Linked DNA regions of Homo sapiens: all the other regions are linked to region 1. Evidence: fine-mapped expression QTL. A gene starts in region 1. Each other region holds a variant in brackets. All regions are shown on one strand. Distances are from middle to middle.

What was found.
Region 2: its variant is fine-mapped to the expression of SAYSD1 in esophagus mucosa (GTEx, PIP 0.91).
Region 3: its variant is fine-mapped to the expression of SAYSD1 in whole blood (INTERVAL, PIP above 0.99).

Annotation. Positions count from the first base shown.
Region 1 is chr6:39,113,605-39,116,366 of GRCh38, reverse strand. SAYSD1 (SAYSVFN motif domain containing 1) reads left to right here and starts at 1,181. Exons shown (of 2, transcript NM_018322.3): 1 at 1,181-1,484. The coding sequence starts at 1,278. RefSeq lists an enhancer at 1,298-1,587.
Region 2 is chr6:39,089,766-39,092,527 of GRCh38, reverse strand. GLP1R (glucagon like peptide 1 receptor) reads right to left here. Exons shown (of 13, transcript NM_002062.5): 13 at 1,225-2,762. Among named protein-coding and RNA genes, the nearest start is that of MIR9983, 17 kb to the right of the region's middle. The variant C/TC (reference allele first, on the strand shown) is at 1,125.
Region 3 is chr6:39,142,635-39,145,396 of GRCh38, reverse strand. No RefSeq gene overlaps it. Among named protein-coding and RNA genes, the nearest start is that of SAYSD1, 29 kb to the right of the region's middle. The variant A/G (reference allele first, on the strand shown) is at 1,204.

The DNA.
Region 1 (2,762 bases):
GGACCTTTGCACTTGTTCCTCTGACTGAAACACTCCTGTTCAGATATCTACATACCTCACTCATTTAAGTCTATGCCCAAATGACAAACCTTCAGGGAGGTCTTCTCTAATACCTCCACCATTGCCTACTTTGCTTCACTTTTCTTCACAGCACTTATCAGTACCTGATATGACATGAAATATGTAGATACACATTTGTTTATTGTCTGTATTTCCATTTGGAGTGTAAGCTCTAAGAAAACAGGTTTTTGTTTGTTTTTTCCTTTCATCCCAGCATCCCCAGTGCCTGTGACTTTAGACAGAGCAGGCCCTAGGTAAACGTCTGTTAAATGAATGGATGACTCTGTTCTAATTTGTCTAATTTCTCGAGTCACCCTCAGCCAGATCCAACAAATATTTGAGTCTTAATTATGTAAGTGACACTTAGCTAGATGCTTACAGCTTTAAGAACGTATAAAACAGCCCCTAACCTGAACTGTGTCCTTTTGGGAGGGTACTGATTGGGAGAGGGCACAAGGAAACTCCCAGAGTACAGAAATGTTCTTTCTCTCCATCTGGGTGGTAGTTACACAGGTGCATACATAAGAGCAAATCTACTGAGTCATATTCTTAAGATGTGTATTTTATGTTGCACCCCAATAAAAGTTTTTGTTGTTGGTTTTTTTAAGGTTCTGACGTATCTAGACACAAAACGAGATAATTTCCCAACGTGGCAAGACCAATGATGGAGCTGCACAGCCTGCTTTGTGAGCAGTGAGAAAGTCACCCTCCAGGTACTAAGATTGGCATACCCTTTCCTTGATAAGAGAAAAAGGGTAAGATGTAGCCTGTTATTCCTCTGACGCTGGAATGTCGTAGAGATCACGGGCCTCTCCTAACCCCTGGAACCATCTTCTCACTGTGGCGCTGTTCATTGGGGCCCAGCAACAGAGATCCCGAATACAGGACGCTGGATCAGTGGGGCCTCGAGCCCTTAAGTGAGATGCAGCAAGGCAGAGCGGCCTTTGGGAGAGGGCAATGGGGCAGCCCTGTGCTTTAGACTTGGCTTGAGGAGGTGACACTGTGTCCACGTGCCTGTGAAGAGAGAACGGCTGAGTATACACGCGACCCGCCAGACTTCACAAACGGAGGAGACGCGGGTCACACCAGTGCGCATGCTCAGCAGGGGCTTCTGCCACGCAGGCGCACGGCGGCCGGCGCGGGCCGAGCGGAGGCAACTGCTGTGCGGCCTGCGGGCGCGCGCTCCCTTATCGGCCAACGGACGCGAGGCGCGCGCCATGGAACAGCGGTTAGCTGAGTTTCGGGCGGCGCGGAAACGGGCGGGTCTGGCGGCCCAACCCCCTGCTGCCAGTCAGGGCGCACAAACCCCAGGAGAGAAGGCGGAAGCAGCAGCGACTCTAAAGGCAGCCCCAGGCTGGCTAAAGCGGTTCCTGGTATGGAAACCTAGGCCCGCGAGTGCCCGGGCCCAGCCCGGCCTAGTTCAGGTGAGACGATGGAAACTTCGGCCCTAGGACCTGGCCTCGGAGCCACAGTCGAGGGCGCGGCCCTAGCTGCCGGGGGTGTGGCCCTAGCTGCCGGAGGCGGGGCTACTGGCCCCCCATCCTGATCGAGGGCCGGACCGCTCATCTCCGGCCACACGTGTCAGCACTGTTACCAGTTTTGACATTTTCTTTCCAGCCCGCGACCCACGCAGGTCCTGATTCCAGCGAGAGTCGAGGGTCCTGGGAGAAAGCACCTCTGCTCTTAAATTATTCACTCCGAATTGAGTTATCGTGACGCCCTGTGGCATTGGGAAACCTCTCCACAACCAAGTTGAGCCACAGCCCTCTGCTAATGGAGGAGGGTAAAAGGTCTAATTGGATACCGATCACAAGTAGCAGTAATTAAAACTTCATTTGATTCGCACCTGGGGCACATGCAGCTAGTAGCCCAGATAGCCTGTGACTTAGAAATGCGTTTGAATACAGAATTTACCAAAGTGTGGTAGCTGTAACTGCCGGTAGTGGCAGAAGCTTATTCCAGTTCCATAGTGAATGTTCAAGACACAAACAAAAAAAAGTGATTTAGTATGATAACCTTTTCACATTTAATTGTTTTGGTAATCTCTTGTTTTGCAGATGAATTTAATTTGCATCCTTTTGTGTTTTCATTTAGTTTTAACTCAGTAAAATGGTAAGGTGGCTTGCAGTGAGGTTGAAATGTCTATGTGGAAATACAAGACAAAACATATCAAGGGATGAGTGCTTTGTAACAATTTGTGCCCAGTGCTTTGTTCCTCATAAGTGCAATAAGAACTAAAAAATTCCTTTTAAAATGAAAATATACTGGAAGAAAAGTGTACCTTGCTCACCTTAAAATTATTTCCTGTAAGTTCATCTATTATTGCACAACATTTGATTTGAGGGAATTTTTAAAAATTACTGAACCTATTACTCAATTTTGATTTGATATTCTCAGTGATATACAGGATTCCAGCTGACTTGCAGAAAGGTGAAAAGAGCGCAGCAGAGTTCAGACAATCCATTTCCTTGTGTGCAGTTTGTGTTAATTGTCTTTGGATAATTTTATTGTTGACTAGAACTTTCTAAGTACAACACTTGCTTAAGATTTTAGAAACCATTTCCCTTATTCTTTTTCTCTCTGCAGTTAAAAAACAATGTCTAACCCATGCAATGAACTTTTGACTGTATGTCTCATTTCCAAAGGAATGAGATCATTGAGGTGGACCCAGAGAAACTGAATTCAGAGAAAAACTTCCATTA
Region 2 (2,762 bases), 24 kb after region 1:
ATGTTCATGGCACAGGGTTTTGAGAGGATAATAAGGGAAGGGGACAGGAGTTCTCAAACCTTGAAAATGCTGATATGCATGGCATGTGAGTGAGATCCTTCACAAACTCTATGTGGAACACAGTCTTCCCCATCTGGGGGCAGCAGTCACTAGAATATGGCTTTATATTGCATGTGAGGATGAATGAGTCTGGAAGCCAAGAATTCTCATTTGTCTCCCCAGTGGCTAGGCCTCGGAACAGCAGGGCAGCTCCCCAACCCCCTTTCTTTAGGCTGAGGTCAAGCCCTTATTAAGCCACAGTGCAACCTCAGAGAAAGAAGGTGCACTTCTACCTGATTTCTATTATTTGTAATAGCTACCTAGAAATGTGGTGGTCATTAATTGGTTTGGGTGGATGTTTTCCTGGAAGGTAGGGAGGGGATAAAAACCTCTATTTTGGTCCTGTTAAGTGGAAGGGGAAGGGCACAGAAAGGTAAGAATATCCATAGGGGAGGGAATTAACTCAAAAGCAAGATTGGTGCAGAGAAACAAATGCAGATGTTCCACCTGCTGCTATCAGGAGTTGGCTGTAGGTATAACTTGCTCTCAGGGTAAGAATTATTCTTATGTTTGAAAGGGACAATTACCACAGCTTGTCTAAAAAGCGGATGTTTAAAGATACTTTCAGGTAAGTACACCGACCTTCAAATAGGTGTAGCTGAAATGATGGGGGAATTAGGAGAATCTGCAATTCCTCTGCCCTTCTATAAGAGTGAGTTGCAAATCTGGAGAGTGAGTGATTATTTAAATTGGAGAAAAGTTCATTTTTTCTGAAGATGAATTTCTAAACAGCAGTTCCATTCAAATTCTGTGGCTGCTTTGCAAACAAAGCTTATGCTTTTATGACTTTTTTTTTAATGGATTTAATGGACTGAGTTCATTTAGACAGGAGAGATCGAATGAATGAGCGGAATTAAAATACACATCCATTTGGCCATCAGTTATTGTTTAAGCCACTCGACCACCCAACTTCTCTAATTAAATGACATTGCAGTCCCTGCATAAAGGCTGCGATGGATAAATTAGTACTTGGTGAGTGCTTTGAAGATGAAAATCACGGTGTGAGTAATGAGCAAGGTTTTTTT[C/TC]CTTGGCTGGAAACGGCATCTTTTGTGTTTTCCCACTGCACTGTGAGTCACCTGGATTGACATTGCAGAAAGCCTCCTTTCGCAAAGGAAGAGCAAGAGAGACAGTAGAGACAGACTTTTATTTGGCTTACAAGGCAAATTAGGAAAGAGTCTGCATCCATTCACATCTGTACAAGGAATTATATGACCTACACATTCGCTACCTATAGAAGCTGGTCCTATTTTGCAGGAATTTATATGTTAAGAAATCACCTGGAAATGATCTTGTTTAAACACTCATGAGGAGCAAACATCCCCCAAGAGCACTGAAGATAGAAATCTATCTTTGTCCCTCCTGAGAGCTTGGCTTACCTCTCTGTTGGTGCATTTAAAGGTTTGCATCAAATCCCTCCAGAACCGATGGGATGCTGGAGTTGGTCTGCTTTGAGGATGGGATGATTATTTTAGTGGAGTAGCTTAGAACTGCAGGTTTGGAGGTAAAGTGTAAACTGTTTGGCAAGATCAAGCACTGGCTGTCTGGGGTGAATTTTGCCCTTCCCTCAATGCCCCCGTTGGCTCCCCTGCAAAGAACTCAACTTTTTATATGTTTCAAATTGTGGTGAGAGCTCTTTTCTCACCACATCTAAACATTCTCATTTAGATATGTTTTTCTTGTCCTGAATTGCTTTGACACAGCAATAATTAGTCATGCTACATTGTCTAGGCTGGCTAATTACTGATAGTTTGGCAGGCCCCGTCAGAAAGGTTGCACCACCCAATGTAAGTTAGGATCCAAGCTGGTGGCTGCCCTGCTCCTCATCACATCCAAATGTAGAATGAGGTGCGTCCTTTTCAGCCCTGACAGCACCTCACTCTCAGCTGCACCCCCAAATTGGTCACAGCTGAAAGAACAGCATTCACAGTATGGCCAGCAGGGTCACCTATTCCTGAGGCAGCTGTCGGGGAGGAGGAGTGCAGGGAGGGAAGTTGGATGCATCGGGGAAAAATGGAGCCACTGCTAGACAAGGTCCTGGAAAATAGGCTAAAATGGCCAAAGAAGAGAGAAAACTCTCTCCTCTGAGAGATTCAGATACATATATATTCCAAGAGACTTGGGGAGTTATTGGAAAACAATTATGCTTATCTGCTTCCTGCCAGTCTGTATTCCTTGACAGAGCGGAAGTACTTATAGATACTGCAGACACACTGTGGCACTAAGTAAAGTGTTTGAAATTATACTGCTTAATAATGCTTCCTGTCTCGGCCCTCTGCAGACCCAGAGAGCTGATCTGGGCCAGCAGGTAACTGTAGGGGCATGGGAATGTGGTTGGCATAAGTTTCTCACTTGGGCGATTTTCTTTCCCAGGGGAACTCATTCCAGCCACAAAAGAGGGAAAAAATGTTAAGAGTTGATCCTAATTTGGTTTCTGCTGAATGTTTAGCACGTCATTCACACAGGTGTCTTTGCAGAGTAAGCCTCTGTATTTTATTTGAGAATTTTTATAGTTTGCCTCGTAGGAGCCAAAAGCAGGGTAAGCACTGTAGATTAGAATCAATTCAACAGAGGGAAAATAAACCTTTGGAATAGATTTTGCCTTCCCTGAGCACGTCGCAGGCATTAGCAAATAATGGGAGCCCTGTCTGCGCATGGAGAGGAAG
Region 3 (2,762 bases), 29 kb before region 1:
AACCAGTTTGGAAAATAACAAGTTTTGGAAATTCTGGGTTAATCAAAGTGAAACAGGTTGGATGTTTTGTGTGCTTGTTTTCTGCTGCAGAACTTCTCAGAGCCTTTAATGATGCTACCGTGCTTTGTGAGTCTTCAAAAAGAGGAGCAATTATGCAGTTCTTCTTGAATACCTTTGAGCGCTGAACACATTTCTCATAGGGCATCTTCAGGGCTTAGTATCCCTCAAAGCACATTTTGGGAAATCCCACTTAGCTGAACTCAGGCCAAACTGTGGTTCATCAGTGTGGCTTGACCTAAGTGGGGGTGAGTATGTGACTGAGATATGTTTGCTTCTGTCTACTGTCCTGCACTATCATTGTAGAGGAGAGCATGGTTGCCTGTCTGAATTCTGGGCCACTAGTGACTCCAGTCCAACATCTCCAGGAAATGTGAAGTGGGTGAGAAAACTGGCAGTGGTGGAAGAGAAGGAGCCAGGAGGCAGAGAGACTGATGGAGAGACAGGGCCTTTGAGAGATGTCCAGGGACAAAGAAGAGTCTTTTCTTTTCACACAGGGTTTATGAAATTGTAATTTCCTGAAACAGTATTCTACATTCAATCTCAGAATATCAAATATCAAGCAACTGAAATGGAGAGAAACATGTGTCCAGCAGTGGGTAGTTTTCAGTGCAGTTAAGAATAAACATGGACAGTGAGTAGCCCACACACTGAGAAGGGAGGTCTCAATGAGAGGGGTTATCATTAGGTGAGTTATGCCAGAGTGCTCATAATTTGTGTTTATTTTTATTTCCTATCCTTCTGATAAAGACAGCTGTTATTTCTACACTGCTTCAGACAGGGCTGGCTACATAATTTGTGGGGCCCAGTGCAAAATGAAAATGCAGCGCTCCTCATTCAAAAAGCAGAACAAAAGTGCTGTTACATATACAAAAACAAAGAGCTTTCTCCTTTCTTCTGCAATCCCTCAACTTGTGGTGCTTTTTATTTGCTATTTAAAGTACAAAGAGGGAGCCAGGCATGGTGGTCCACACCTGTAGTCCCAGATACTCGGGAGGCTGAGGAAGAAGGACTGCTTGAGCCCAGGCATTCAAGAGCAGTCTGGGTAACTTAGTGAGACCCCATTTTAAGTAAAGACTAAGTGATATGGTTTGACTGTCTCTCCACCCAAATCTCATCTTGAATTGTAGCCCCCATAATTCCCAC[A/G]TGTTGTTGGCAGGGTGGGTGGGAGGTAACTGAATCATGGAGGAGGTTCCCCCATACTCTTCTTGTGGTAATGAATGCGTCTCACGAGATCTGATGGTTTCATAAGAGGTTTCCCCTTTCACTTGGCTCTCTCATTCTCTTCTCTCGCCTGCTGCCATGTAAAACGTGCCTTTTGACTTCCACCATGATTGTGAGGCCTAGCCACGTGGAACTGGGAGTCCATTCATCCTCTTTTTCTTTATAAACTACCCCGTCTTGGATATGTCTTTATCAGCAGTGGGAAAACAGACTAATACATTAAGTAACTATGTAAAGAAAAACAAAGAAGCGTAAATTCTTAGCCTAAAGTTTATGATTCATTTTTATATGGTACAGTGCCAGTTTTAGATGCAGATTATTAAACCAAGAACAGAGGCTTCTGAGTGAAGGACTCCGCGCGACCGCACAGGTCACATGCGCGGAAGCCAGGCTTGGCTGCAGAACAGGAAGAAACATGACTTTTGTTTTCCAGCGTTCAAGCAGCTGGTTTTATGCACTCCAGACAGACAGTGTGATCGGGTGTCTGACATTTACAGTGTTTCTCCTGTGGGAAGCTAGGGTACATTTTTGAGCACCATCTCTGAAAGATTATAATGACCGCTTCATTAGAGAGAGAAAGAGGAGTCTGCAAGAAAAATGTTTCCCTTGCACTTCTTGAAGCTGTAAATGTCACTGCTCATTGTACGGAAATGCTACCAGGGCCAGGGCTGATAAGCCAATCAGGTAGCCTCCGGCAAAGGCATTTCATAAACACTGACTGAAACTGGCCTGGTAGCTTCAGGGCCCAATGGACTACACCAGGTGAGAGACTGAGAAATGGTTTCCTCGGGAGAGAACAAAACACCACCCTTCCACCTAGGAAGGGCAGGGGAGCTGGACATTACAGGAGACAGCTGTTTTCTTTCTAGAAGGTGTGCTGGGACAGAGTTAAGCCTGCATATCTGCCTTTTCCTCTGACTCCATCTTTTCCTGCTACACGAGATATCATGCAAGCATGTTGATGCCTTATGCCTTAATTAGAATTAACGTTCCCAGCCACTGGTGCCTCTTCTTTGCTTGTTTATGAAGTTAACACTTAACGATCCTCAAACTTTATGAGACTTATGTTATTGTCCTCATTTTCCTGATGAATAAACTGAGACTTCAAAGGATGATGTGACTGATGGAGGTCACCCAGCCAAAGTGGGTTTCCCTGAGCCTGGGGGCCAGGTCTGGCTGGCTCCAAAGTGAATCCTGGTCCTCAATCTTTCCCTGCCCCTGTCCATCATCCTGAATCTTGGCTCAGCATCACAGCACCGGCTGTGGATCTGTCTGCGGGATTCAGAGGGGCTAAGGATTTTACTAAATACCAACTGTACACAAACACACACACACATATAAATGGTGTAAATAGATATCTTTAGAGTCTGGGCACATCCCTTTGAATATCCTTCATGGTGGCAAATCTTTTCCTCTGAAAGTATATTTGATTTTTCAAAATGAATGAAAATTATTTGGAGCCTGATAGTTTAGTGGGCTGT